5 separate regions of the Homo sapiens genome follow, and regions 1, 3, 4 and 5 are each reported to be linked to region 2. Evidence: microRNA targets listed by miRTarBase, many of them from high-throughput screens and not tested one by one. Region 2 holds a microRNA gene; each other region holds the end of a gene's coding sequence.

The links. Region 2 holds the annotated microRNA hsa-miR-769-5p (UGAGACCUCUGGGUUCUGAGCU, at 2,681-2,702, shown strand). A microRNA usually pairs through its seed, bases 2 to 8, with sites in the 3' UTR of a target mRNA and lowers its output. Matches are read on the target gene's strand: a 7mer-m8 pairs with bases 2 to 8, a 7mer-A1 pairs with bases 2 to 7 and ends in A, and an 8mer does both.
Region 1: miRTarBase lists AEN as a target of hsa-miR-769-5p. The part of its 3' UTR that is shown has no 7-base or 8-base seed match.
Region 3: miRTarBase lists HOXD3 as a target of hsa-miR-769-5p. Seed matches in the 3' UTR shown: 7mer-A1 at 4,025-4,031.
Region 4: the mRNA of HYCC2 is a reported target of hsa-miR-769-5p. Seed matches in the 3' UTR shown: 7mer-A1 at 2,669-2,675 and 7mer-A1 at 706-712.
Region 5: the mRNA of PRUNE2 is a reported target of hsa-miR-769-5p. Seed matches in the 3' UTR shown: 8mer at 858-865.

What each region holds. Positions count from the first base shown.
Region 1 is chr15:88,629,760-88,634,862 of GRCh38, forward strand. AEN (apoptosis enhancing nuclease) reads left to right here. Exons shown (of 4, transcript NM_022767.4): 4 at 299-2,522. The coding sequence ends at 535. Among named protein-coding and RNA genes, the nearest start is that of ISG20, 6.7 kb to the right of the region's middle.
Region 2 is chr19:46,016,281-46,021,383 of GRCh38, forward strand. It overlaps MIR769 (microRNA 769), which reads left to right and starts at 2,652; the gene lies at 2,652-2,769. CCDC61 (coiled-coil domain containing 61) reads left to right here. Exons shown (of 14, transcript NM_001267723.2): 9 at 38-113; 10 at 414-553; 11 at 711-789; 12 at 967-1,024; 13 at 1,798-1,870; 14 at 2,010-2,336. The coding sequence ends at 2,107. It overlaps PGLYRP1 (peptidoglycan recognition protein 1), which reads right to left. Exons shown (of 3, transcript NM_005091.3): 2 at 3,246-3,367; 3 at 2,873-3,139. The coding sequence ends at 2,958. RefSeq lists a silencer at 583-642.
Region 3 is chr2:176,171,328-176,176,430 of GRCh38, reverse strand. It overlaps HOXD3 (homeobox D3), which reads right to left. Exons shown (of 4, transcript NM_006898.5): 4 at 3,333-4,914. The coding sequence ends at 4,157. It overlaps HAGLR (HOXD antisense growth-associated long non-coding RNA), which reads left to right. Exons shown (of 3, transcript NR_033979.2): 3 at 1-3,242. Among named protein-coding and RNA genes, the nearest start is that of HAGLROS, 4.3 kb to the left of the region's middle. RefSeq lists an enhancer at 4,200-4,810.
Region 4 is chr2:200,977,133-200,982,219 of GRCh38, forward strand. HYCC2 (hyccin PI4KA lipid kinase complex subunit 2) reads right to left here. Exons shown (of 13, transcript NM_001321623.1): 13 at 1-4,739. The coding sequence ends at 4,138. The region is part of intron 1 of LOC105373835 (a long non-coding RNA gene); the gene reads left to right. Among named protein-coding and RNA genes, the nearest start is that of ORC2, 16 kb to the left of the region's middle.
Region 5 is chr9:76,609,916-76,615,018 of GRCh38, reverse strand. It overlaps PRUNE2 (prune homolog 2 with BCH domain), which reads left to right. Exons shown (of 19, transcript NM_015225.3): 19 at 419-3,643. The coding sequence ends at 449. All of the region lies in intron 5 of LOC105376095 (a long non-coding RNA gene), which reads right to left. Among named protein-coding and RNA genes, the nearest start is that of PCA3, 150 kb to the left of the region's middle.

The DNA.
Region 1 (5,103 bases), not on the chromosome of region 2:
ATCAGGAGGAGCCAGTACCTCTTGCTCCTGTTGGGCTTCACATTTATTATTCATCTGATCTGCAAGCCTTTGAAGCAAGAGATTTTTAGCATGCCTTATATTTGAGGAAAACAGGCTTGGAGAAGCTGCATGGCTTATGGTGTACAGTTGAGGTTCCATCCCTTTTCTGTGAACCTCCATTCTGAGCATACGTATTCTTGGGCCTGCACAAAGAGCCCTGGGAAACTGGCCTTGCTTCTTGGGGTAACAGGCCTCTCACTAGGCCTGCAGGCAGTGATGTGTTGGCTCTCGTCAGTAGGTGGGCCAGCACGGGCACTCATCAGTAGAAGATGCCACGACAGCCATGGAGCTCTACCGGCTGGTGGAGGTGCAGTGGGAACAGCAGGAGGCCCGCAGCCTCTGGACCTGCCCCGAGGACAGAGAACCTGACAGCAGCACAGACATGGAACAGTACATGGAGGACCAGTACTGGCCCGATGACCTGGCCCACGGCAGCAGAGGAGGAGCCAGGGAGGCACAGGACAGAAGGAATTGAGAAGGGGGCGGGGCTCCCTGGCTGGGCTTCCGGTGTGGCCGGTAGGAAGTGGGGGCCAGGAGAGCAGCGGGCACTCCTTCCTGGGCAGGGTGGGGCAGGATGCAGTGAGCCAGCCCCAGGGCCAGAGGAGTAGGGGTCATCTGTTACCTTGACACCCTCTGCACACAGCATAGCCCTCTCTCTCTCCAGGGCTGTTGGTTCTTTCTTCTGACTCCTGTGGTTTTGCTAATGGCACTTTACAGACTCCATGGAGATGTCAGGTGGACCATCTTCTAGGGCCCAGCAGGAGTAGGGAATGTGCCAACAGACTGCCCAGGTTGCCGTGGCCTTCCCCACCCCCCAGATCTCCTGAGTCATCATGCTGTGCTAATGAAAGGGATCATATCATCCTCTCTGGGGATGGTGGGTGGGGGTGTCAATATCCTGGAGCTCCCTTACCCCAACTCAATGACTTGGGGGTAAAGTTCTCTTCCTTTTGTTGCCTACCTCTTCCTCCACTCATTTGGGTTCAGAATAAACATGTCCTGAAGTTAAAGAGGAGTTAAGTCCTAAAGGAGGCATTTCTTCCCCACCTCCCTGACCTGGAACTCTGGCTACAGCCATTGTAGGAACTCCGTGCCTGGCCTGTCAGCTCCCTGCTAGGCTACAGTGGAATAGCAGAGCCCACAGGCTTCTCGTGGGGAGTTGGCTCCTTAACATTTCTTGGCAACAGAAAGCCCCAGGCACAGCTCAGGGAGGAGGGAAGGCAGGTAAGCTTTGGACGAGAACTGGCATATTTATTTTGACCCAAATCAGGGATTTCCCCAGTCCACCCAGTACTGGGCTCTTAAGCAAAAGTCTGAGAAACAAGACAGTGGTTTGAATTCTGGGGCCTTTGTGTAGGATTGTGCCTGACCTTTATTTATTTATTAACAGCAGGGCCACTCGTCTAGGGCAGTGGAGTCTGCGTGTCTCCTGGGGCTGGGGCAGGGCATTGGCAGTTACGCAGTGGCCCTGAACCTGGTCTGGTGCCCCCGAACCTGGTCTGATGCCCCCTCAGCTCTTTGACAATCACTGTGGCTGTTGGGTTTTCTCCTATTTCTAAAAATGTTCTCTTCTTTCCTAAGTGACAGTTTTGAAGTATTGGATAACCAAGAGCTCAGGTCACACAGACCTTGGAGCCCCATCTTTGCTTGCAGCTTAGCTTTGAGATACTAAGCAAGCGAGGGACTTCACTCTTGAGGCTGTTTTTTCCTCATCTGTAAAGTGGGGATAGTGGTACGGCCTACCTCATAGGGTTGTAATGAGCACTAAATGTGAAGTGCTTGGCACAGTGCCTGGCACATGGTGAGCCACAGCTACTGTGAGTTTCTGTTTATCCCCCTTTTTTTTTTTTAAGCCCATTGTTTATTCTTTGAGAATTTGTTGTAACTTCTTCAGGATAACACCTGAGTCCACAGGCTGAGCAGCTGTGGCCCAGACAGAACTGCTCCGGCTTGGCTGTTCCAGCAGGTGGGGCGCTGGCCTCGGTGAGGGCACAGCAGCAAGGTTCACGGATATCCGTGTGTCTTGTCTGTGGCCACCAGGCACAGGTTTGGCTTCCGGTCAGTGTCCCGACACTGTGCGGGAGGTGACAACAGAGCAAAGCAGCGCAGGGGTCAGGGAGGTACAGACACTGCTGAAATCACACTACCCCACCCTCAGCTGAAGCCCCACGTTCCACAAACTTGGGGTCATAGATTGTCCAGTCACTGGCTCCCTCCCTGTCAGCACAGCACAGAGGAAGGGGCTAACTGAATCTTTTACCACTTCTGGCCTGGCTCCAGAACTTTGTTCTAGATTCCTTAAAAGTCGGTAGCTGATGTCAAACTCAATTGAGCAGTAGCTTTGATCCCTTGGTCTGGGGGTCGAAGGAAGATGGTGCTGTTATCAGCGGGGAAATGTACTATTTAAGATCAGCTTTGTTGTAAAACCATTTGTTCTAGAATAAAACTCAATTGGAAACGTGGGTGAAGTGGCCCTTCCTGTGAATTCTCAAGCTGGGATTGGAGGGTGGCTCATTGGGGGTTTGGGAGGGGGACTGGGGCACTAAGCCTTGCTGGGTGCTTTGGACTTCGAGAAGGCAGTTTTCAAGAGGATGCAGTGGGCTCCAGCAAGAAACTAGCAGAGCTACAGAATTTAGATAATTTATTTCTTATTGCCCTATTACAGAGCACAAGTTTTGTGTTTTGTTTTTTGTTTGAGACAGGGTCTTACTCCTGTTGCCTGGGCTAGAGTGCAGGGTGCAATCATGGCTCACTGCAGCCTCGACTTCCCAGGCTCAGGAGATCCTCCCACGTTGGCCTCCCAAGTAGCTGGGATGACAGGCATGCGCCACCCCGCCCAGCTAATTTTTTTGGTATTTTTAGTAGAGACGGGGTTTCACCATGTTAGCCAGGCTGGTCTCAAACTCCTGGACTCAAGGAATCCACTCACCTCGGTCTCCCAAAGTGCTGGGATTACAAACAGGAGCCATCGCACCTGGCCATATTTGTTTTAACTTTTTTGTTTCTCCCTGAAGCTATGTACTCACTTAAAAAAAGTTTTTAATTGTAGTAGAATACACATAGAAAATTTACTATGTTAACTACTTTTAGTGTACAGTTCAATAGTGTTATGTCTGTATCCACATTGCTGTGCAACAGATCTCGAACTCTTTCATCTTGTGAAACTGACACTTTCCATTTCCCCCTTTTTTCTTTTATTCCTTTTTTTTCTTGAGACAGAGTTTCACTCTTGTTGCCCAGGCTGGAGTGCAATGGCGTGATCTTGGCTTACCACAACCTCCACTTGCCGAGTTCAAGCAATTCTCCTGCCTCAGCCTCTCGAGTAGCTGGGATTACAGGCATGCGCCACCACGGCCGGCTAATTTTGTATTTTTAGTAGAGACAGGGTTTCTCCATGTTGGTCAGGCTGGTCTCGAACTCCCGACCTCAGGTGATCCCCCTGCCTCAGCCTCCCAAAGTGCTGGGATTACAAGTGTGAGCCACCGCGCCCAGCAATTTCCCCCTTTTTTCAACCCCTGGCAACTACCATTCTACTTTCTACTTCTATGAATTTGACTAGATAGCTGATACAGGTGGAATCATACAGTATTTGTCACTTTGTGACGAGCTTATTTCACTTAGCACAGTGTCGTCATCCATGTTGTGGCATGTGTCAGAATTTTATTTTTTAAGAGACTCTTGCCCAGGCTGGACTCAAACTCCTGGGCTCAAGTTATCCTCTTGTCTCGGCCTCCTAAGTAGCTGGGACTACAGGCATGTGCCCCCATGCCTGGCAACTATTTTTTTTATTTTTTTTTTTAGAGACGGGGTCTCATTATGTTGCCCGGGCTGGTCTTGAATTCCTGGCCTCAAGTGATCCTCCTGCTTTGGCCTCCCAGCATGCTGGGATTACAGGAGTGAGCCACTGCACCTGGCTAGAATTTTCTTTTTAAGGCTGAATGATCTTTTGTATGTATATACCATGCTTTGTTTATCCATTCATCTGTCAGTCAACAATACTTAGGTTACTTCCCCCCTTGGCTGTTGTGAATAATGCAGCTATGAACATGCTGAAAGTGCTCCCAAGTGTACAAATACCTCTCCAAGACCCTCCTTTCAATTTATTTGAATATATACCCAGCAGGGGAATTGCTGGATTATATGGTAATTTTTTTTTTTTTTTTTTTTTTTTTTTTTTTGAGACAGAGTCTCACTCTTGTCATCTAGGCTGGAGTGCAATGGCGCGATCTTGGCTCACTGCAACATCTGCCTACTGGGTTCAAGCTATTCCCCTGTCTCAGCCTTCCAAGTAGATGGAATTACAGGCGCATGCCACCACGCCTGGCTAATTTTTATATTTTTAGTAGAGACGGGGTTTCACCATGTTGGCCAGGCTGGTCTGGAACTCCTGACCTCAGGTGATCCACCCGCCTCGGCCTTCCGAAGTGCTGGGATTACAGGCGTGAGCCACCGCGCCTGGCCTATAGTTTTTTTTGAGGAACTGCTGTGCTGTTTTCTTTAGTAGCTGTACCATTTTACATTCCCACCAACAGTGAACAAGGGTTTCAGTTTCTCCACGTCCTTGCCAACATTTTTTTCTGTTTTTCCATAGCAGCCATCCTAATGGGTATGAGATGATGTGGTTTGGATTTGCATTTCCCTAATCATTAGTAATATTGAGCATCTTCTTACATGCTTTTTGGTATACAGTTCCTTTTTAACTAATTTTCTTAACATGTGTTTTGTAATATGTATCAGCATAGTTTTACATGTATTAAACCACATGAAATTGCTAATATTCTAGTTTTTTGCTTTTCGTTTTTGTTTTTGAGACAGGGTTTCACTTGTCACCCAAGCTGGAGTACAGTGGTACAGTCTTGGCTCACTGCAACCTCAACCTCCCAGGCTCAAGTGATCCTCCAGCCTAAGCCTCCCAAGTATAATAGCTGGGACTACAGGTGCATGTCACCATACCTGGCTGATTTTTTACATTTTTAGTAGAGACGAGGTCTTCTATGTTGCCCAGGCTGGTCTTGAACCCTTGGGCTCATGGGATCTGCCCAC
Region 2 (5,103 bases):
TCCGGACCTAGCCGCCTCCTCTCCCACGCCGTCCTAGGTGGTCGCGCGCTCCGCTTCGACCCCACGGCCTTTGTGAAAGCCAAGGAAAGGAAGCAGAGAGAGATCCAGATGAAGTCAGTGCCCCTTCCTCCCTCACCTGCCCCTGTCCCTGGCCCGTGCCCGCTCCCGGGCTCTCATCTCTCCACGCCACCATCAGTCTCCATCCCCTGCCACCTGCTCGCTTCTCGCCGGATACCCCGCCTGCTCTCCCTTCCGTCCGTCCTACCTCCTCGTCTGTGTTTCTGCGTGCTTTCCGCTCGTAGGCCTGTCACCTCAGGCTTTCGCTGGCGTGGCTGTGACCTTTAGGGGCGCAGTGACCCCCTTGCCTGCAGGAGTTGGGCGTACAGACCGGCGTCTCCTTTCTTTTTTCCCAGGCAGCAGCAGCGGAACCGCTTAGGCAGTGGGGGAAGCGGGGACGGTCCGTCCGTCTCCTGGTCTCGCCAGACCCAGCCCCCTGCTGCCTTGACTGGCCGAGGGGACGCCCCTAACCGCTCCCGAAACCGCAGCTCCTCAGGTAACTGGCCTGGAGCTGGGGGCTGCCGGGCTAGGCGGGACTGGGCGGGGCTGGGCGGGCTGGGAGGCACTGGGCAGGGCGGGCGGGCTGGGAGGGCCTGGGAAGCACTGGGCGGGGCCAGCGAGGGCCAGCGGTCACGCCCTCCGTCTCCCTCTAGTGGACAGTTTCCGCAGCCGCTGCTCGTCTGCCAGCTCCTGCAGCGATTTGGAGGATTTCTCTGAGTCGCTCTCCAGAGGGTAAAACTTGAACTTGGGAAAAGGATCGCCTCCAAAGGGTTTCTGGGGAGACTAGAAACAGTCTTTTGCAGGGAAATTGGGTGATGGAGCCTGGGGGCCTTGAAACCACAAAGGTCGGGGAGGTGGGAAGTACCAGAGCCTCCCCACCACTGGTCCTTGGTTACTCCTTTTTCTCAGGGGTCACCGCCGCCGTGGGAAGCCTCCCAGCCCAACGCCCTGGAGTGGGTCCAATATGGTGAGTAGAAGGGGCAACATAAACCACTGGAACACAGCTGCCCCCATTTCCTGTGATTCCTTCCTGGGGATCAGGTGCAGAGGCGACTCTGAATGCCTTTGGCAATAGGGCTTTTTTAAGAGTGCGTCTCGCTCTTTCAGGCTGGGGTGCAGTGGGGCAATTGTAGCTCACGGCAGCTTTCAACTCCTGGACTCAAGAGACCCTCCCACCTCGGCCTATGGAGTAGCTGGGACTAGGCTTTTTTGGGGGGGCAGGGTGGGGTTGAGACAGGATAAGGGGGTGGTATTGTCTCTTTATGTTGCCCAGGCTGGTCTGGAACTCCTGGCCTCAAGCCATCCTCAGCCTCCTACAGCGCTGGAGTTACAGGCTGGGCCAGCGCACCTGGCCTGGGAACAGCACGTTTTGAGAGCATTAGATTGGAGAAGGAATAATGAGGGGCACGTGATGCTCTTTAGGGCTTTGGCTTCTGACTGTCAGGTCTTGAAACCTGTCTCCTCCTCTTCCCAGCTGTATGGTTCAAGGCAGTTCTTTAGCCTCTCTGTACCTTAGTTTTTGTTTATCAGTTAACCAGGGTTGGTAATGGCATCACCTCACATGTGAGGTGAGGGCTCTGTGAGGACATTAGGAGGTTATTTTGCAGATAATGAATGGCCAGTAGGTGTCAGGCCTTATTTTTCCCCAAGGTCCTTAGGCTCAGGATTTCCAGTGGGATTTAGGGGGACAGAAATAGAGGGACGGTGGGTGACCCCCTTTCCTACCTTCCCCATCACCAGAAGTCTCCCCCCGTGGAACGCAGCCACCATCAGAAATCTCTGGCCAACTCCGGGGGCTGGGTCCCCATCAAAGGTGAGCCTGGGACTCCACATCCCCTCTCCCAGCCCCAGGACCCGTTGGAATGGTAGTGCGGGCAGTGGTATATTGGGCCCAGGAACTCCCTGGGGCTTCAGGCCCCTCACAGCCCCCATACCCACACCTGCTCTCACAGAGTACAGCTCGGAGCACCAGGCGGCTGACATGGCCGAAATAGACGCACGCCTGAAGGCCTTGCAGGAGTACATGAACCGACTGGACATGCGGTCATAACGTGGAGAAGGGGTACTACCCCTCCATCCCCCACCCACTTGCTGGGTATGGTGTGGGGGGTGGGGCCAGGGTGGCCTCCAGCCCTGCCCAGTCCCTGCCCTGGCCCCGTCCCTCCTGCTGCCCCTGGGGTCTCAGGTGTGTGAGGCCCTGACCCTGCCCTCTCCCCAGGCAGTGCATGCTGGGAGGGAGGATGTGTGCATTTTGTAAATAAACATATTTGCCCTGGGGACCCCTCAGCTTATGACTAAAGGGTGAGGGTGGAGTGGGGAGAAATGTGGAGGAAGAGAAATTGGGGGGTATAATTGGGACCTGTGTGTCTGTGCCTCGGAGGCAGATTGGGACTCAGGCCTAGGAAAAGCTTGTACACTCTCTAAACAGTGCAAGGGCAGACCTGGGAGGAGTAGTGAGCAGCCCGTCCCTAAAGGAGTCCAAGCAAAGTTTCTGCGCAGGATGCCTTTGGCTGTGTGGTGGGAAGGAGGTGTCTTGCAGCGTGGTTCACTGCCCAGGAGGACCCCCAGGACCCACTGTTGGTGACATCCCGGCCGCCTTGGTGCTGATTCCTGGGCTCTGACCTGAGACCTCTGGGTTCTGAGCTGTGATGTTGCTCTCGAGCTGGGATCTCCGGGGTCTTGGTTCAGGGCCGGGGCCTCTGGGTTCCAAGCACCAGTGAGGAGAGTGCTGGGAGGGGAAGGGGTGGGAGGGCTTTGGTCTTGTGGGAGGGAGAGAAGGAGGGGAGGTGTGTGGTGGGACCTGCTGAGGAACACATTTTGAGCTACATCTTTATTGGAGAAGGAGACAGTGGGGTTTTTGGCCATGGGAGGGGAGGAATGGGGTGCGGATCAGCAGGGCCTCAGGGGGAGCGGTAGTGTGGCCAATTCTGGATGAGGTGGTAGAGCTGGTTGCCTGGAGAGAGTGTACGCTGCACATCCCGGTGTCCTTTGAGCACATAGTTGGACCTCAGGGCTCCCTGAGCCACACCGCAGGCCAGTAGACCCTGGGCTGCCCGGATGGCCTGGGGTGTGGGCACCCGATCTGGAGGAGGCAGAGGTAGGAGTCAGGCAGGGGCTTCCCCGAAGGGGAAGTGATAGCGTAGGGCCCCGTGTCAGCCCCCATCCCAACTGGCTGGACAGTCACTCACCCATGTAGTTGCCCATGAAGCTGATGCCAATGGACATGGGGTTCCATAAGTGACCTGAGTGGGCACCCGTGAAGTTCCAGCCACGGCCCTCGTATACGAGCCCGTCTTCTCCAATCAGGAAGCTGCATGGGGAGGTGGGGGGGCTTGATGAGTGAGGGAGGGTTTCCCGAGGAGGACTCCTCCTCCTTCCTCCACTCACCCTGCCTCCGTTACTGCCGTGGTGCACACAACTTCCCCAGCATCCTTCTCACCCGTTAATTTCCCACGATAGTAACAATGACTGTGGTCATTTATTGGGCCCCTGCCATGTGCCAAGCACAGCTCTGCATACACCTTTTTCCATCCTCACAGCAACCCTGTGAGTCACTATCACCCCCGTTTTATATAGACAGAATCAGAGCGGTAGAATCACCTGCCCCGGGGTCACACAGCCTGTCTGGGGCACAGCTGGGGTTTTTAACCAGGCCTCCATGGTCCCCACCCATGTGATCTTGTGCGTTGCTCTCTCCTGCCTCCCTAGAGGATTTGTGGAAGTCCTGTTTTACTGAATCCTTGCAGGACAGCCCTCTGAGGCAGAGACTTTTTTTTTTTTTTTTTTTTAAGACGGGGTTTCACTCTTGTTGCTCAGGCTGGAGTGCAGTGGCGTGATCTCAGCTCACCGCAACCTCTGCCTCCTGGGTTCAAGTGATTCTCGTGCCTCAGCCTCCTGAGTACCTGGGATTACAAGCATGAGCCACCACACCCGGCTAATTTTTGTATTATTAGTAGAGATGGGGTTTCACCATGTTGGCCAGGCTGGTCTCGAACTCCCGACCTCAGGTGATCTGCCCGCCTTTGGCCTCCCAAAGTGCTGGGATTACAAGCATGAGTCACCGTGCCCAGCCAAGGCAGGGACTCTTATCATCCTCATCTTAAGCAGAGAGAGCAGAGACTCAGAAAGCGACATAATTTGTACAAGCTACTCAGAGCCCCCTGCCTCTCAGAACTCTGCCTTTGCCCCAGCTTGCTTCCTGCCCTCGGGGTCCACTGGGGGACAGGATCACAGACTCAAAGTTGGGGTCGTAACCAGATACCGACCCTGGAGCCCCAGCACCTGCCTCTTTGAGGTTCCCAAGCCTGGCAGCAGATCCTTAAGGCTGATTCATTCAGCACATCTGATTGAGCGTGTCTGACTTGGCAAATGGGAATGAACTAGAAGATCAGTGCCTTGGAGCTGCAGTATGTGCCAACTCAGCCCCCGCGCTCACAGTGTCATTAATGACGCACAGAATGTCGGAACTTCCGAATCTTGAGTCCCGAATCTGCTGCTTAGGAAGCCAGCTCCCAGAATCTGGCCCCAGTGATGCTGGCTGCTGGGACTGGCTGGTTATGGCCCTGCTGGTGATGCTGGCTGCTGGGACTGGCTGGTTATGGCCCTGCCATATTCCCGGAGCCTGGCATGATGGTGCTGGGGTCGGGGGTGGTTGGTTCTCCCTGGTCATTTGTTGCATGAATGCATCTCATTGAAACCTCAGCCACCATCGCCAAGCGGGTACAGTCAGAAGCCCCATTTACAGGTGAAGAAACGAGGCTCAGAGAGAGAAGGTGACGTGACATGGAAAGGGGATTCAGAACGTTAGAACCAGATTCGGAATCCTAAAAGCTGAGGGCCAGACAGCGGCTGCTTCTGTATGTGGTGATGTGGACCCGAGGCTCGGGCCTTCGTGACCTCATGGGAACACTTAGGATCAGAGCGCCTGAGTCTTGGAAACAAAATGTTGAAGTTGGAGTCTTTGATAAAATCTTGAACTGGAAGGGCTGGGAATACCTTTGGACACTTCTAGACTTCTCTGGGTGGGTTTTGTGTGTGTGTGTGTGT
Region 3 (5,103 bases), not on the chromosome of region 2:
GTAGTCTCCCTAATGAAAAACCTCAACAGATGGAGAGCCTGAGCTCCCAAGTCCGCAGGCTGAGAAGATGCACTTCACTCAAGGGCCAGTGGGCTGGTACAGACTAGGGAAGAGAAAAGGGACAAAGGCTGCTAGTATAGGTAATCACTATCTTTTAATACTCCTAACACATAGAAATTCGAAAAATCTTGTTCAGCAATGTTAGCAGCCTGTGAGCCTCGGAAACTAATTTGGCTGATGTGTCTCTGATAGGGAGCTTGGGGCTGCACCAAGGGGAAACATTCTCCTCCTGTATTCTCTCCTCTCTCTCGTTTGAAAGCCTGTACAAAGAAATGGTACAAATGGATGGTTAACTTAATGATTCCATCAGAGGCAGATTTTTCTCTGTCAGGTCCCTGGATAAGGTGGAGGTCTGAAAGCCAGGAGACAGAATATGTACTTAATCGCCCTTTCTGACCTGCTTACCAGTGACCAGGACTACTCTCCAGGCCTTTCTTCTGCCACTTCCCCATTCTTCCTGGCTAGTTCAGTTGGGTCTCAGCACTTCAACTCCTGGCTGGATCCTGAGTTTTTCTTGGTTGCAGGGAAAGCTCTCACTGTCTGCATCTCCTTCCCCACCCCCACCTCCCGTTTTGCAGCTGGCCATTCTGGCTGCCTCACAGCTATCCTGCCTTAATTCATATTTGATTGCCTGGACAGAACCACCTAGAATGTCCAGACGACTGCCACCCCTCAGCCATGGGCCTGAGATCCTGCCCTGACCCCTTTCTTCAGACCCCAGGAGGACCCACAATCTCCCTGATCCCCACCTTCCCCAAAGTAGTCTCTAGGAAAAAAGCAGAGCTGGCTAAGGCCTGAGACAGAGCCATTTCTTCCCCTTGGGCAAACGAGGTAGACCCTCCCAGAGACCAATGCCGGAGAGGCCCGGATCCGAGCTCCCTTTATATGGCCTCCCCCATCACGGATCCCGTGGGAAAACCTGACACACAATGGCGCGGCTGCTCCGGGCACCCTCAACCCAGCGCCCTGCGGCAAGGCCTGGAGCAGCCTGGTGGTCTTGGTGCGCTCCCTTTGCCCTCCCCGCAACCCTCTGCGAGCACTCGTCCCAGGAGAGAGACCCTGGCTAGGGTGGAGGTTGCCTCCCGCAAAGGGCGCTGTTGCTGGGGCCTCCCCTCCCCCATTCTCTTGTTTTTCTGCTTCTGAGACTCGGGAGGGAGGCGGCAGGCGCCTCCGCAGCCGATAGAGCAGCTATTGTGACCTTCCCTTGCAGAGCGGGAACCCAGCCGAGTGTGTACCGCCGGCGGTGGCGGGGGAGGAGGCGACTGTGTGTGCAAACCTCAGTCGGAGAGGGGGTGGCGCTGGGAAATAAAGGTTTGCAACCTCAGGCAGTTGGGCCCTTCAGAGGGCGTTTGGTTGTGTTTAGACTCGGTTGCTTTCTAACACTAATTGCAGGCTCAAAAGGAGCGGAATTTATTGCGAAGGCCAAGGCGGCTTGTTTATAATTTATGAAGTTTTAAATGGCTGTGCCGCGGGCCCCAACTTTCTCCTGGGCTGGCAGCCGCGCGGAAACGCGCCCTCCCCCGGCTCGCCGCCCACCCCCACCCACGCCCCTCAGATGAGTCTCACGCCAATGGCAGGAACAGATCCGAGCTATTAGAAGTCTCGGGAACCTCCAGAGATGACAGAAGGTGGCAGATTTGGTCCAAGCCCTCACCCCACTCGAGAGGAGGGCGTCGGGGAAAGCTGTGGCTGCCTGGAGAGGGAGCCCCTGATCCCACACTTCCTTGGAGCCTGAGTGTGAGAGGAAGCTAATGTCAGCCGGGCTAGACACCGTTTAAAGTCTAATCCATGAAACCCTAAGCCGCAAATGACACTTGGGGCTTTGCAGACACCCGCAGACTCAGCAGATACTCCTGCGGTAACACACTGTGCTGGAAAACGCCTGGAGCCATGACACATTACGTATTTTTATTATTATTTATGGTAGGAAGAGGAGATGAGGGAAAATCGGGCTGAATCTAAGCAGCCTGACAATTCAGCTAGTTAATATTTAGCCAGTTAAGAAAGGTGGTTGTAATCCCTGCAAGGCAGTGAGCTCTCCTTTGATTTCTCTAATAGCTTAAAAAATAATTTCTTACAAGACAATTAGAAATTCTGCCTATGGATGCAAATTTCATAGAAAACAATGTTAAGCCTTGAAAGTGGGTAAAATGTGCCTTCGATTGAAGTCATTTATTCTGTTGATACACTTCTACAACATATATATTTTAAACCTGCTCAGATAAAGTGAAATTTAGCAAAAGGATATCCCCTCCCACCCCCAAATCTAACATGCCATTTTAAAAACAGCACAAAGGAACAAGGAAACTAAATATTATTTTGAGCCATCATTACTTAGTGAAATACAAACATCCAAATAGAAACGATTGTTGTTCCACCAGAAGATTAGAAGTTAAATTATTTCCACACAATAGGAATTTCACTTCGTGTCATCGGGGATGTAGTAGGAGTTGCATTATTTGTCAAACCAAATAGAGATGCGTGGGCTGACTTTGCTGAAATACAAAAGAATTGAACCTTATCTGAAGGCGTTTTCTAAGTGGCCCCTCCCATAGAAGCCGGGAAGTTGTCCACCCCTAGCAGAAGCCACATTAATATTTACAAAATGGTTATAAATCCTTGAAGACATTTTTGCCCATTTTGTATAAGAAACAGGAGTAAACAAGGTGTTTATACTTGTTATGTTTCATTAATGAAATATTATTACTTTACATCTTGGGGAATGTTTGTTTTCTTTAGAAATGAACTAATGATCACTACAAAGGAAGAATTCATGACAGCATTTCCTAGAGAAAAAGCTTAGGTACGCGTCTCCAAATGATGGTTTCTTTTTCTACACCTTAGCTTTTTCATAGCTCAATTCTTCTTACAACTTCTCTTGTGTTTTTTCTTTGATTGTCAGTTTTCTTTCAAAGTTTATTTTTTGTTACTTAATGCAGAAAAGTGAGCTCTGGTCTCCCCAGTGTAAAAGTCGATTGTGTCTAGAAAGAAGGCAGTAAAAACAGCAAAGCAGGCGCTGCTTTCAAAAAGCCCTGCCCAAATCATCCCGCCCAGAACCTTCTTAGGTTTGCATCCTCATTTCCCCCTCCCCTAATTTCAATAGCTGGAAAGTAATCAAGTATCCCGAGAACCAATTTATGCACTAGACTCCAAATAAATAAAATATTTTTTTCAAAGTGTCAGTCTGTTTCGGGGCCTTCCATGGGGATTGTGCGAGATAAAGGCATAGTGATCTGCTTGCAAGTGTGCATGATTAACACAGATACAGTTCCGACTGGGAAATTTTTTTATTCTAAATATTTGTTCCAATAGTACCAGACAATTTGAAATCAATAAACTGTGGTGAGGACTGTGGTTTTTGAGAAATGACCAAAGTGTGTTGTGCCACGCCACCGGGCTTCCTGACTCTACCCATGAAGGACAATTTGCGGTCTTAATCCTTTATGTCAACTACAAACACCAGCCACGGTTACGACTGTTCAAAACTACTCTCTCAACTAGTTCAGACCAGGGGGACTAAGGAGGTGAAATGTGGCCCCCACGGCCTGGAAGCGAATTCCTAAGCTCGGCTGGATAAATCTACAAATATACACATAAATACATTCAGACAAGGATAAATAATCAGGGAACGAAATGACTCGCTTCAAATAATAAATACAGATAGTTTAGTCCGATGCAATCCTTACGGCACAGGAAGGAGAATATAAATTAAGGTCTCTGAAACTAAGCTAGACGCGGGCCAGGCCCAAGACTCTCCAAGCTCTGGTCCCTCTGCAGGGCGCGCCGCTGATGGGTCTCAGACTTACCTTTGGGACACCATTACCAGATTGGAGTCCCTTGGTCCGCAGTATGTGGCACTGTCAAATTTACAGGGAAGGATCCTTGCGGCTGATTTATGGCGAGTCACCCAAAGGACGCCCATGGAGGGGAGGCCCGGTCGCCTGCGCCTCCGCCGCTGGAGGCCTGAGACCCGGGAGGCGGCGGCAGGGCAAGAGCGGGGAAGGGGGTTCCCGAACTGCCCCGCGGGCCCCACCCTCTACCCCACCACTACAGCAAGAGAGGTAATTTTGCCGCGAGTTCGGGCTGGCGGCGGCCGCTACAGATGCGTCAGTTTGGGAGCCTCCGGCAGTCGTCCCTGAGACGAGTGGTGGGCCGAGAGATCTGTGTAGGTGGGATGAGGGTCGCAAGGTCCATGGTGGTGGTTGCCTGGAATCTGCGCGGCGCAACTGTAGTCCACGCTGGCCGACGACGGGTGCGAGAGGTGGCCCAGGTTGAAGACAGGCCCGGACGCGGGCGCCATGGACTCGACGAAGTTGCCGCCCACGTACACCGGGCTGCCCTGCAAGTTGGCGCTGGCGAAGCCGCCGCCGTTGCTCGCCATGGGATGGGGCTCGAACTCCGGCGCTGCGTAGCGCTTCTGTTGTGGCAGGCAGCTGCTGAGTGGCGCCGTGTAGGCGGCCAGGCCGTACATATTGGGCTGTGATTTGGCGAAAGCAGGCGGCGAGGGCGCGTCGTAGGCCAGGCCGGGCACTGGCGGCAGCTGGCCGGAGTAGGCCACGTGGCCAGCGGCGCCGCCGAGCGGTGGGCTGCGCTCAGGGGACTGGCTAGCCGGCGAGTGCAGGATGCCCTTGGCCTTCTGGTCCTTCTTGTACTTCATGCGCCGGTTCTGGAACCAGATCTTGATCTGGCGTTCCGTGAGATTCAGCAGGTTGGCCATCTCCACGCGGCGCGGCCGGCACAAGTAGCGGTTGAAGTGGAATTCCTTTTCCAATTCCACCAGCTGCGCGCTCGTGTATGCCGTGCGTACCCGCTTGGATGCTGGGCCTGGCGGGCTCTTGTCCTCGCAGCTCTCTCCTGGGCAGGGAGGGAGAGAGGGAGGGCGCTGAGCGAGTGGGTGGGGACCCTCAGGACTGGAGAGGGGTGCTTCCCTGGTTCTCTTTTCCTCCTCCCTCCCCCCACCTCCAATCCTGGCTGGGGAGGGGAAGGGCCGTTTGAGAGGTATGATTCCAAGGGGGAATTCACCTACCTACCAACCCCCTACTA
Region 4 (5,087 bases), not on the chromosome of region 2:
AACATTTCCAACATTTCCCCATCTAGATTACTCTACATTTTTTCTGGATTTAACACTTTTCTTAATGTGTTGTATTCACCAACTACTAGACCAGAACTATAAAGAAACTGCAAAAATGGAGTTAACAACCCACTGCCTCCCCAAACCCATGGGAGACTGGGTTTGATTCTGGCTCTGCTTTAGGTATATGATCTTGATCACACCACAACCTCTGAGCCTCTGTTTCTTGAGGATGAAGGTTGGGGTGAGGGAGTGGGAGACTAGCTAGATTATCTCCAGGGTTTCTTCTTAGCACAATTCTGATTCTATAATAAATAGACAAAAGTGAATTGGAAAGGTAAGGGGAATGGTAAGGGGTAAAGTTAAGGGGATCAGGATTTTAAAATAACGATTTTCCCCTTAGCTTCTTAAAATATTTTCACATTTAAAAATCTTCAGGCCAGGTGTGGTAGTTATGTCTGTAATCCTAGCACTTCTGGGAGGCCAGGTGGGTGGATCTCTTAAGCCCAGGAGTTCGAGACCAGCCTGGGCAACATGGCAAAACCTCGTCTCTACTAAAAATACAAAAATTAGCCAGGTGTGGTGGTGCATGCCTGGAGTTCCAGCTACTCCAGAGGCTGAGGTGGGAAGATCACCTGAGCCCAGGGAGGTTGAGGCTGCAGTGAGCCGTGATAGTGCCACTGCACTCTAGCCTAGAGGACAGAGTGAGACCCTATTTCAAAAAATTCAAATCTTCTGAGTTAACTATTCACTTTGCATTTTAGTTTGCTTTCTAGTAATTAATGTCAGAGCGAGCTCCCAAAACCTTCAGCTGTTTCTTTGTATTCTTTTATCCAACTTGGCATACATGGCACCAACCTAATTGTTTTATTACAGAAAACAAGTATTTTCTCCCTAAATATCTTTTTCATAGATGATTAGACTTTTATGGAGATTAGAAAATATATAACAAAAGCTTGTTAAAAAAGTATGAATATTGCTGGCATATATCTGTAACAGCTGTTGTATACATGAAACAAAACTATTTTAAATTAAATGCCAAAAATAATGCATGTTAAAATGCATATTTAAAAACTTAGAAAATTTGACTCTCAGTTTGTTAAACTAACACCTTCCATTTTAACTAATAATAATTCTTGCACAAGAAATCTGTTGTAAGACCCTGAATGCAAGGCTTAGACTAAATGAAATGTTTCTTCACTGAGGTCAATTCACATCACCTAAAAGAATAGAAAACAAATGTTACAGGGTCATAAAATGTTAATGTGGGTATGTATACATACAAACATATATGTATATACATACAGATAAATAAAATCCTCTAAGATGAACTTTTTTTTTTTTTTTTTTTTTTTTTTTCAGAGATGGAGTCTTGCACTGTTGCCTAGGCTGGAGTACAGTAGTGCATTCTTGGCTCACTGCAACCTCCACCTCCCAGGTTCAAGAGATTCTCCTGCCTCAGCCTCCCGAGTAGCTGGGATTACAGGCGCCTGCCACCACGCCCAGCTAATTTTTTGTATTTTTAGTAGAGACAGGGTTTCACCATGTTGGCCAGGCTGGTCTCGAACTCCTGACCTCATGATTCACCCACCTCAGCCTCCCAGAGTGTTGGGATTACAGGCGTGAGCCACCGTGCCCGGCCAAGATGAACATTTTTTAAAACCAATTTTTCAGGTATAACATAAGATTTCTAGCCAAAGGAAAATTTTGTTGTATTAATTCTAACATTTGCTGTGATTTGGTATTATGTGGTATTTCTTTTGTGCTCTAACCAAAATCATGCTAGATTTAGATGCCAATAAATGCACAATTTGAATTGAAAACAGTCTTTTTACCTCCCAAATAATTTATGCCATAAAGTGACTGACCTCCAGCCATAGCCAAGATCTCACTTTCTTTTTTATTTTTTATTTATTTTTAATTTTTTTTTAGATCTCACTTTCTAGGTAAGTATAATGTTCCTTTCCTTACATACCTGAAACTGCCTGTTTTAGTATGTTATGGGCCTTTATAGCTCATTTATTTTGGCTATTTTTAAACTCCTTTCATTTATTTGACATCCCTTAAATTAAAAGAAAGGGTATTTAAAATATTTAAAATACAACTTTGTGATATATACATATACACACCATACACACACACACACACACACACACACACACACAGACACACACAAAACAATAAATTGTCTACTTATCAACTTTTAGCTTTACCCTGGACTTTGGCAATGTTGTAGATACTAGTTCAGGTTCTAGTTTTCCATTTTCACATGAGCTGGAAAAATGTTACAGACCACCATATTTAAACAAGCATCTCATATATAAAGAGTCTAACAGAAAGTCTCTTAGGGAAAAAAGAAAGTCCTTACAATAAAAACGGGAGGATTGCTAGGTGTGAAAAAAAAAAAGGCGTTTTTTCTGGTTATTTATCAAAATCTATTGTAATTTTAATGGTAGAGATAAAATTTTAACTTTTGCTAATTAGGAGAATACTTGCTTTCTATAAATTCAGTATATTTTTCTTAAACAATAATCAAGTAAAAACATCTAAATGTACAAAGCACTGATAGCTCTGATGTATTCTGTGGAAGGATAACTTATAACAGTTTAAGTCACAATACACTTTTTTAAAACCCAATATATTCCCTTCTTTTTCAAACATCAGAGCCTGAGACCCAGAAAAGTTATGATAAAATCTTATCCAACCAGATCAGAACTAAGGAAATTTTTTTTACCAATAATGTTTTTGTAACCTCTTAGCAGTTACCAAATGCTACTTACATACATTCAACATCTAGCTTACTGGCATGATATCAAAGTTTTATAAAAATGAGGAACTGCAGATATATGATTAGAAGGTACACAAATTGCATTACATTAAACACAAAGGCAGTGTGGTCCTTGTAGGAGAAATCAAGGTCAGTACCCCCTGGTAGAAATGTTCTATAAAAATGTGTCACATTGAAGTATCAGTGTTTCAGCCAATTGTCTGTCCCTGATATATTTCCTTGGAGTATGTAATGTATCAGGACTTTAGGTTTCTTAATCCAAAATGTCTGACTGAATTTAGGTACATCTAGAAAGCAGCTGAAAGGGTTTCTCTTATAGTCTGACATAACAGAAAGTAGATTGAGAAATCCCTCTCTTTACCTGAAGATGTACTGTTACACTTCAGCCATCAGCTCACAAAGGAAAAGAAGAAAAAAAAATCAAATCTCCTCTCACACACACAATCTCCACAAAAGCTAAACAAAAACTACCCCCCGCCCCCACAAAACCCCAGCACCAAAGTGTCAATCATTCCTGGGAAATAGAACATGCCCCTCAGATTCTGATTTGTTAGTTGGCCAAACTTGAAGGACAGAAATGACCTTATATGTCCTTGTGGGGAAGAGGGAAGACACGTTAATAATGACTATACAGCCATTGAGAAAGTGCATTATCAATTACACAATCAAGAGTCCTGCCCTCCAATGGAGGTGGTCACAACTTGATTTAAATGCCTCCGTAATTGAACATTTATGTCTTCGGGATAAAGGAGATGGGGGGGTGGAGAAAGAGCTACCCTCATTTTAATGAAAAAGTGCAGCAGTCTACCACCTTTCCCCATGCTTCTCCAGAAAATGATTGCACAGACTCAGAGAAGTCCAAAGTCATAGCAGAATCTCTGAGGCACTCCTGGTTAAGAGAAAAAAATATGATCCAGTAATCTTCATAGTTCTATAGATTATGAGAACAAACCCGTTTTGTTTTTAAACAAAAGCCAAAGAATCGTTTCATAGGGATCATATACACCATTTCCTCTAATGTACCCTCAGTCTCACAGTGTTGAAATGGGACCGATCAGCCTACGATGGATTGCACATCACCCAAGGAGAAAGGAAGGCATGGAAAAGGCAACCATTTTATACTGCTTCACAAACACATTTACAAGGGATAGGTGAAGAGAAGATGTAGGAAAGAGGGATAAAGAAAACCTTATTGCTGTTTTGATACAAAATACAGTATGAAGATACCTAAACTAAATGAAATCTGATAACAGTGACCAATATTTTCACAATGTGGGATGAAGTGTCTTCTTGCACAATGAAATGTTCAGTTTAAAAGGTAAGCAGAAAGATGAGGGAGGATGTCAAAACTACACCTGGGATATTAGCTGCATATTGAAACTTGGGGATCGAGACTGCTTGGTCAAGGGGGCTCCTGGGCTGAGGAGCTCTTTACCTTCGCCAGCTTGACCTAGCCGGTCTTCCTGCAGACTGACAGTTGAGTATCGATTAGCATTGTTGGCTGCTAAATTAGTACCTCCCTCAGTGCCAACCCCAATGCTGGTACTTGCTTGACTGCCATTTACATAGTCAAATGATTTACTTGAGGAAGCACTGGCTGTCCGGATTAGACTTAAGCTATTGATTTTTGGCACCACCTGGCCAGCAGGCAGGCTCAGGTGTTTCTTCATTGGTGTCAGCTCAACTGAATCTACACTAAGATCAGTTGGTTGCTGTACATACTGCTTGCGAACTACTGAATCTCGAGGGCTCTCACTGGATTTGATGGCAGAGGCTGTTTCTTTATCCTTGGCTGAACGCCCAGTTGCTACTTTCCTTAAGCTTCCCCTCTGAGAAGAGGAGGATGGTTTGGTCCCAATTGGCTGACTGCTGAGGGAAGCCCCTGATGAAAATCCTTCATCTGCATCATTCAGGTTTACAGACTCCTCTCCTCCATTTACACCCTCAGCACCTAAGAAAACAAATCAGACAGACTCAGCAATAGCTAAATTAAATAAGAAGCAGCTGTGAATAACAACACTGACCTTATCTCTTGGGCAATGTTCGCTATAGGTTGTCAATGGCCCTACTATCAACACTTCCCCTAAATAATTTAGGGGAAATCTTAATCTACACAGAATTCTACTATGCTAATAGATGTTAGTTTAGCTTTATTTAGTCCAGTTTTTGTACAACTATCCACAAACATATCTAGTATACTGTCAATATTTAGGCATGTAAAACGACTAGGTAAAATACAACAGTTTGTTAACATAAATTTTTATAATACACTATCATTCTTCTTCTGAAATGACCATAT
Region 5 (5,103 bases), not on the chromosome of region 2:
TATTTAGTGCTTGTCAGACATTACTTACTTGAGGCAGAACATTTGTTTGCTTCACAAGGAAAGGTCACTTATTAAATAAAATGGCATGATTTCTGGAATACACTAATGCTCCTTATCTTAATTGACTTTGGGAATGAGCCTTTACATGAGTTTTTTACCTCCCTGGATCATTTTGAAAAGGTGTAAAATGCTTCCAGAAACGATTTTGTAGAACTAAACAGATTTCATATGTTGGAGAAAAGCCTGACAAGAGGAGGATTGGGTTTTACCAGATTTTTCTATTATAAGAAACTTGCATGATTTAAATATTTTCAGTATGTCCTTTGAGGAAAAAAGCAAACACAGTGCTACCCAAATCATTACTAAATGTCTCTCATTTGGTTTCTCATGTTTCTCTCTCTTTTTCTTTTCTTTGCAGTATTGACTTGAAGCTGAAAGAAAAGCCTTAGTTGGCCATGCTGGAAGAAGAGGATGCTTTTCTGGTTCATGGTTCTGTTGAAACATATCTACCTGAAAGAGACAGGGCTGATGTTACCTTTTTCCACTTTGCACTACCTGGTGCCATTCTAAATTTCTAAGGGGAAAAATAGAAAGTTTGTTTACTCTTAAGATATTTTATGAAATTGTGTGTACTTTCCTATTTTGCCAATTATGTGCCTCAAAGATTTTAGTTGAGCCTTAGCAAGAAAGTAGGACCTTCCATTTCAATACTTCATTAACACGGTGTAGTGATACTTTGTCCCTTAGACTGGTGTTTACCAGTAAGATACCTTTAATCCACTGTTAAGTATGAGTGGATTTGTTTCCATAGATTAGCTGGATTTCCTTTTGGTGATTGCATTAGGTTTAAAGTACACAGGTCTCAACTCTCCCCAGGAAAGTTTCCCCTGTTTGACTCCACCTTTAAAATCCTAAGCCTGACTAGGACAGCCACAAACCACACAAGGTGTAAAACCATCATCAGCTAAGTGCCCGTTTTGTTCTTGTTTACCAGAATCTCCTTTAACTTCTCAAAGGGAAGCCGGGCTTTCTAATCCACGTCAACTTTATTTTAGTTGTCAAATTGGGCATTATATTTTATGTAAATTGGTCTTTTAACATCATTTTCCTGATGAATGTTGGTGACCACCACATTGTGAAATTTAAGAATCCGTGTTGCATGTTTGGTAGCTCTCTGAGTTTCAGGCCATAAACTCAGCTCCAGAGGTTACCTTTTAAGTGCCAAGAACTCAAGTGCAAGGTGGCCTACTCAAAAATCATTTGGTAGCATTCAGTTATTCATGAATTCCTCTCTCGCATGCATTATAAAAAGTGATCTGCTTTAAAACACCGTAATCTGATCATAGGCTTAAAATTAAATATGAGTATTACTTTCATGTACAAAATATTTCCTTTATAGTCTTCATATGCCCTTTAAAATGCCAACAAGATTTCAAGTCTGTAGGCCTCTAGTGAGGTGGGGTGGCAAACCACAGCTAAGTCTCGCTCACCACTGCAAGCTAAGAATGGTTTTTACATTTTGGGTTGGAAAAATTTTTTTTGAATATTTCATGACACATGAAAATTATTCAAATGTTAGTGCCGATAAATAAAGTGGTACTGAAACACAGCCACACAAACTTGTTTTTGTACTGTCTACAGCTACTTTCACACTACAGCCGCAGAGCTGAGCAGTTCAGCAGACCGTATGTCCCACAATGCCTAAAACATTGACTATGTTTACAGAAAAAGTTTGCTGACCCCTGCTCTAGCAAACGCATCCTTTCCTACTCCACCCCAATTTGTATTTAGATAGTTTCTCTAACAGAACGGACAAATGAGGCTGCAAACTAATTTATTTTTGTCAAAAATCAATGTTTTGACATCCACAGACAGTGAAATAAAAGAAATGGCTTGCTGAAAAACATGAGGAGTCCTAGCCACAAAATCACTGCTTAGGTTGCAATTGCCAAAATGAAGCCTTCTTAGAAGCACTTCTTTAGTATATACAGGTGTTGGCTGAAGTCCGTGCCTCACTCTGGGAACCATTCTTAGTCTCCAGTGTCTCCTATTACAAAGAAGCTGGCAGAAATAAAAATGAAGGGGTGAGAGCGGTTCCACCCTAGTCTCATGGTGGAAAATTCATTGGGGAGAGCTGTCCAGGATATTTGGAGTCCTGGGTAGAAGGAGCTTGTAACTACTTTAAAGTCGACATCTTTGCACAGGTGATTGAGTTTCTCTGACCTCATTGCTTCACCTCTGTCTCCTCCCGTCCTTCCGCACGTGCCCACACACACGCAGTTCAGCCCTCTTTCCTCCATAAGCCTCCATCGTTTTCTCTTTTCTCCTCTTGATCCTTTCAAGCGAGTATCTTGTTGAATTGTATGTTCTGTTGGATCTCCTCCTTCATAACATCTGGCTTGTTGGACAGAAAAACCCTACAGCCCACCCCCTCCCACAGCCCACCTCCACTTTTGAAAGCCCAAATTACACCTCTCCCAGAACACAGTGTTGACGTAAATACAGTTACCCAATATTCCTGTTTGTTCACCTATTTGCTACTTTCACTCAGTAGCATCCCATTTTGTAAAATGAATTCCATGGTCACCCTGTCACAGGAAGTAATGAAAAATCCAGTGTTCAGTGTAGTGGTGCAAACCTGAGGGCATAGAGCTGTTCATAGAGGGCTCTTGTTATAGCCAAACAGACACAGCAACAATCTCACCATTTATATATATATTTTTAACTTGTCCAGCTCATCTATGGAAAACTACTCAGGTGGTATGCTGTTTGAAGCCTCATCTTCCTACATGAAAATTATGGGCATTTGTCCCAATGATTTTGTTTCAGCTGTTCTGTAGGCTGCATAACCACTCTGATATTTAGGTATCTGCTATTTTATTATCTTAAAAGACAAATTAATTTAATTGCATGTGCTAGGGAAAAGCTACCATGTACATTCACCCCAAGTAAATAGAATCCTAGATGAATCCTAGAAAAATAATCCCTAAGCAGATAGGTAGACAGAGGTAAACATTCACATGATTTAGCTCTCTAGCTCTTGCACTCTGAACATTCTTGCTTTGGTTCTGACTTCTGGGAACTGCTTTGCATTTCTCCTATAGATCTGTAGTTAAGGGAACCAAGGGGTCATTGGGGCAAAAGCATTGTTTCTCAAAGCTCCTTGATTAAGAGAAAGAACAGAAATTTGCACAGAAGATAGTGTCAAGGAGTGAGAAAGTTTGTTTGAGGGCAGTAGCTCAGTGTGGAAGAAAATCCTGAAGTTTCTGTTGAAGCCATACAATGTTCTATGGGGTTACTCTCTAAGACATTCTCTGAGGTGTGTGAGGAAGTCACTACTCCTAGCCTTTGTTAAGATGTAATTTTAAATATTCAGTTATGGTACTATGTTTGCAACTCTCGTCTTATCACAATGCCTCAGTAGTTTGTTCCCTTAGAAACATTTAGATGTGCACAAATTAATCTTTTATATATCTAAAGGTTTTTCTATCATGCATTGGATTGCTCAGAATAAAGTGTCTGTTAGACTTCGTTTTGGTAAATAAATTCTCCATAATGTAGATTAATAATATAAAAGTCTTTAATGACACAATATATCTATATAGCCTCACTGTATAATTCAGAAATAAAAATTGATTCTGCATGTGATGGTTTTCTTTCTTTGAGTCAGCAAGAATTTTTCTCTGGCTTCACTTTGCAGCAGTTTTATCTCAACATCAATCTAGCTTGGCACTTGGTACTGGAGGACTGTATACATTTTGGTTTTTCTGTACACCCAAACTTTATTCTCTCTTCATTTTTGCCTTTCCTATCTCAGAGTTCAATACACCGAGCTTTCAAACTGTTGTTTACTCTGTGGATAAGCGATTTCTTACTTTGGAAACATCTCCATGTTTCATGGTTACTTGATTTTTGTCTTTTCCTCTCTCTTCCCCTTGCCTTTTTATGGCATATATTTATTTTTAAATTAAAATGTTTAAATATCATTTTATTTTTAGTTGGGGTTTTTTCCCCATTTTCACAACCTTCAGGCAAAACCAGAGTTGAGAATTACCACTGTGCTATTTTTTTAACTTAATAAACACATGTGTACCTCTGAGAAAGTTGTTGGACTAGCCAAAGGAGAAATTGCTCTACAAGAAGTGAGACGTTGCATGTTCTCATGATCTAAAAATGAGTTCTGGTAGATATTGTCCTCTACCCAAGAAAGGGAAGAAACAGAAGAAAAGGCTGACAAGTAATTGCAGGCAAAGGAAGGACATTCAACTACAAGACGTACTGCTACATTCATTCTGCTCTCGTACCTAACTATGGTGGTGGAAACTGGAGGTGGGCTAGGTGTCCAGCACTAGGGAAAGGGCTGGGTAAATCGTGCTGAATACACCTTTTAGTATACCACAGCTGTGAGAAGCAACATACTATATGTTCATAAAGCAACACTTAAATCATAGGGTAGAGCGGAAAAAGAACAAACTCGATGTTTATAGCACAGTGCCACTTACATAACTGTTAAACATACACACACAAAACTACGTATTATCCAAAATCCATGTGTATTTAAGGACTTAACACACTCATTTGGGTAAGGGTAGGGCATGGAGATCAGTGATAAAGTTGGGAGCCTAATTAAAAATCAAAATCATAAGGGGCCTTTTATAAGCTGAAGTTAAAAATAAATAAAATGAAGACAACTTCAGTCGTGGAAGCCAAGACTTTCAGTCATAGATTACAGAAAAGCTGTGTTGGGGCACTGTGGATCCCTGAGGAGCCATTCCCTTCTACAGCTTCTCTTGTGTGTGCAGTGTCCCTGTGCTGGCTGTGTCCATGTGCTGCAGCGTGCCAGAAGCCCGCCCTGGGTTGCATCATCCTGTGCAGTCATGGAACTTTTAATTCAGAGCTGGTGCCTTTTGACACATCAATCCTCACACAGCTGTGGGCTTTACGGAGCAAGCAGATTGCCTCACGAGCCTGATTTTCCTAGATAGTTTCATTCACATCCATTCAAAATAACCCTCTTTAACTAGACAAAATTATTTCTTCTCAAGATATAACCATTCCAATGATACTTAGACATTAGACACCAATAACTGCTACCCATGATCT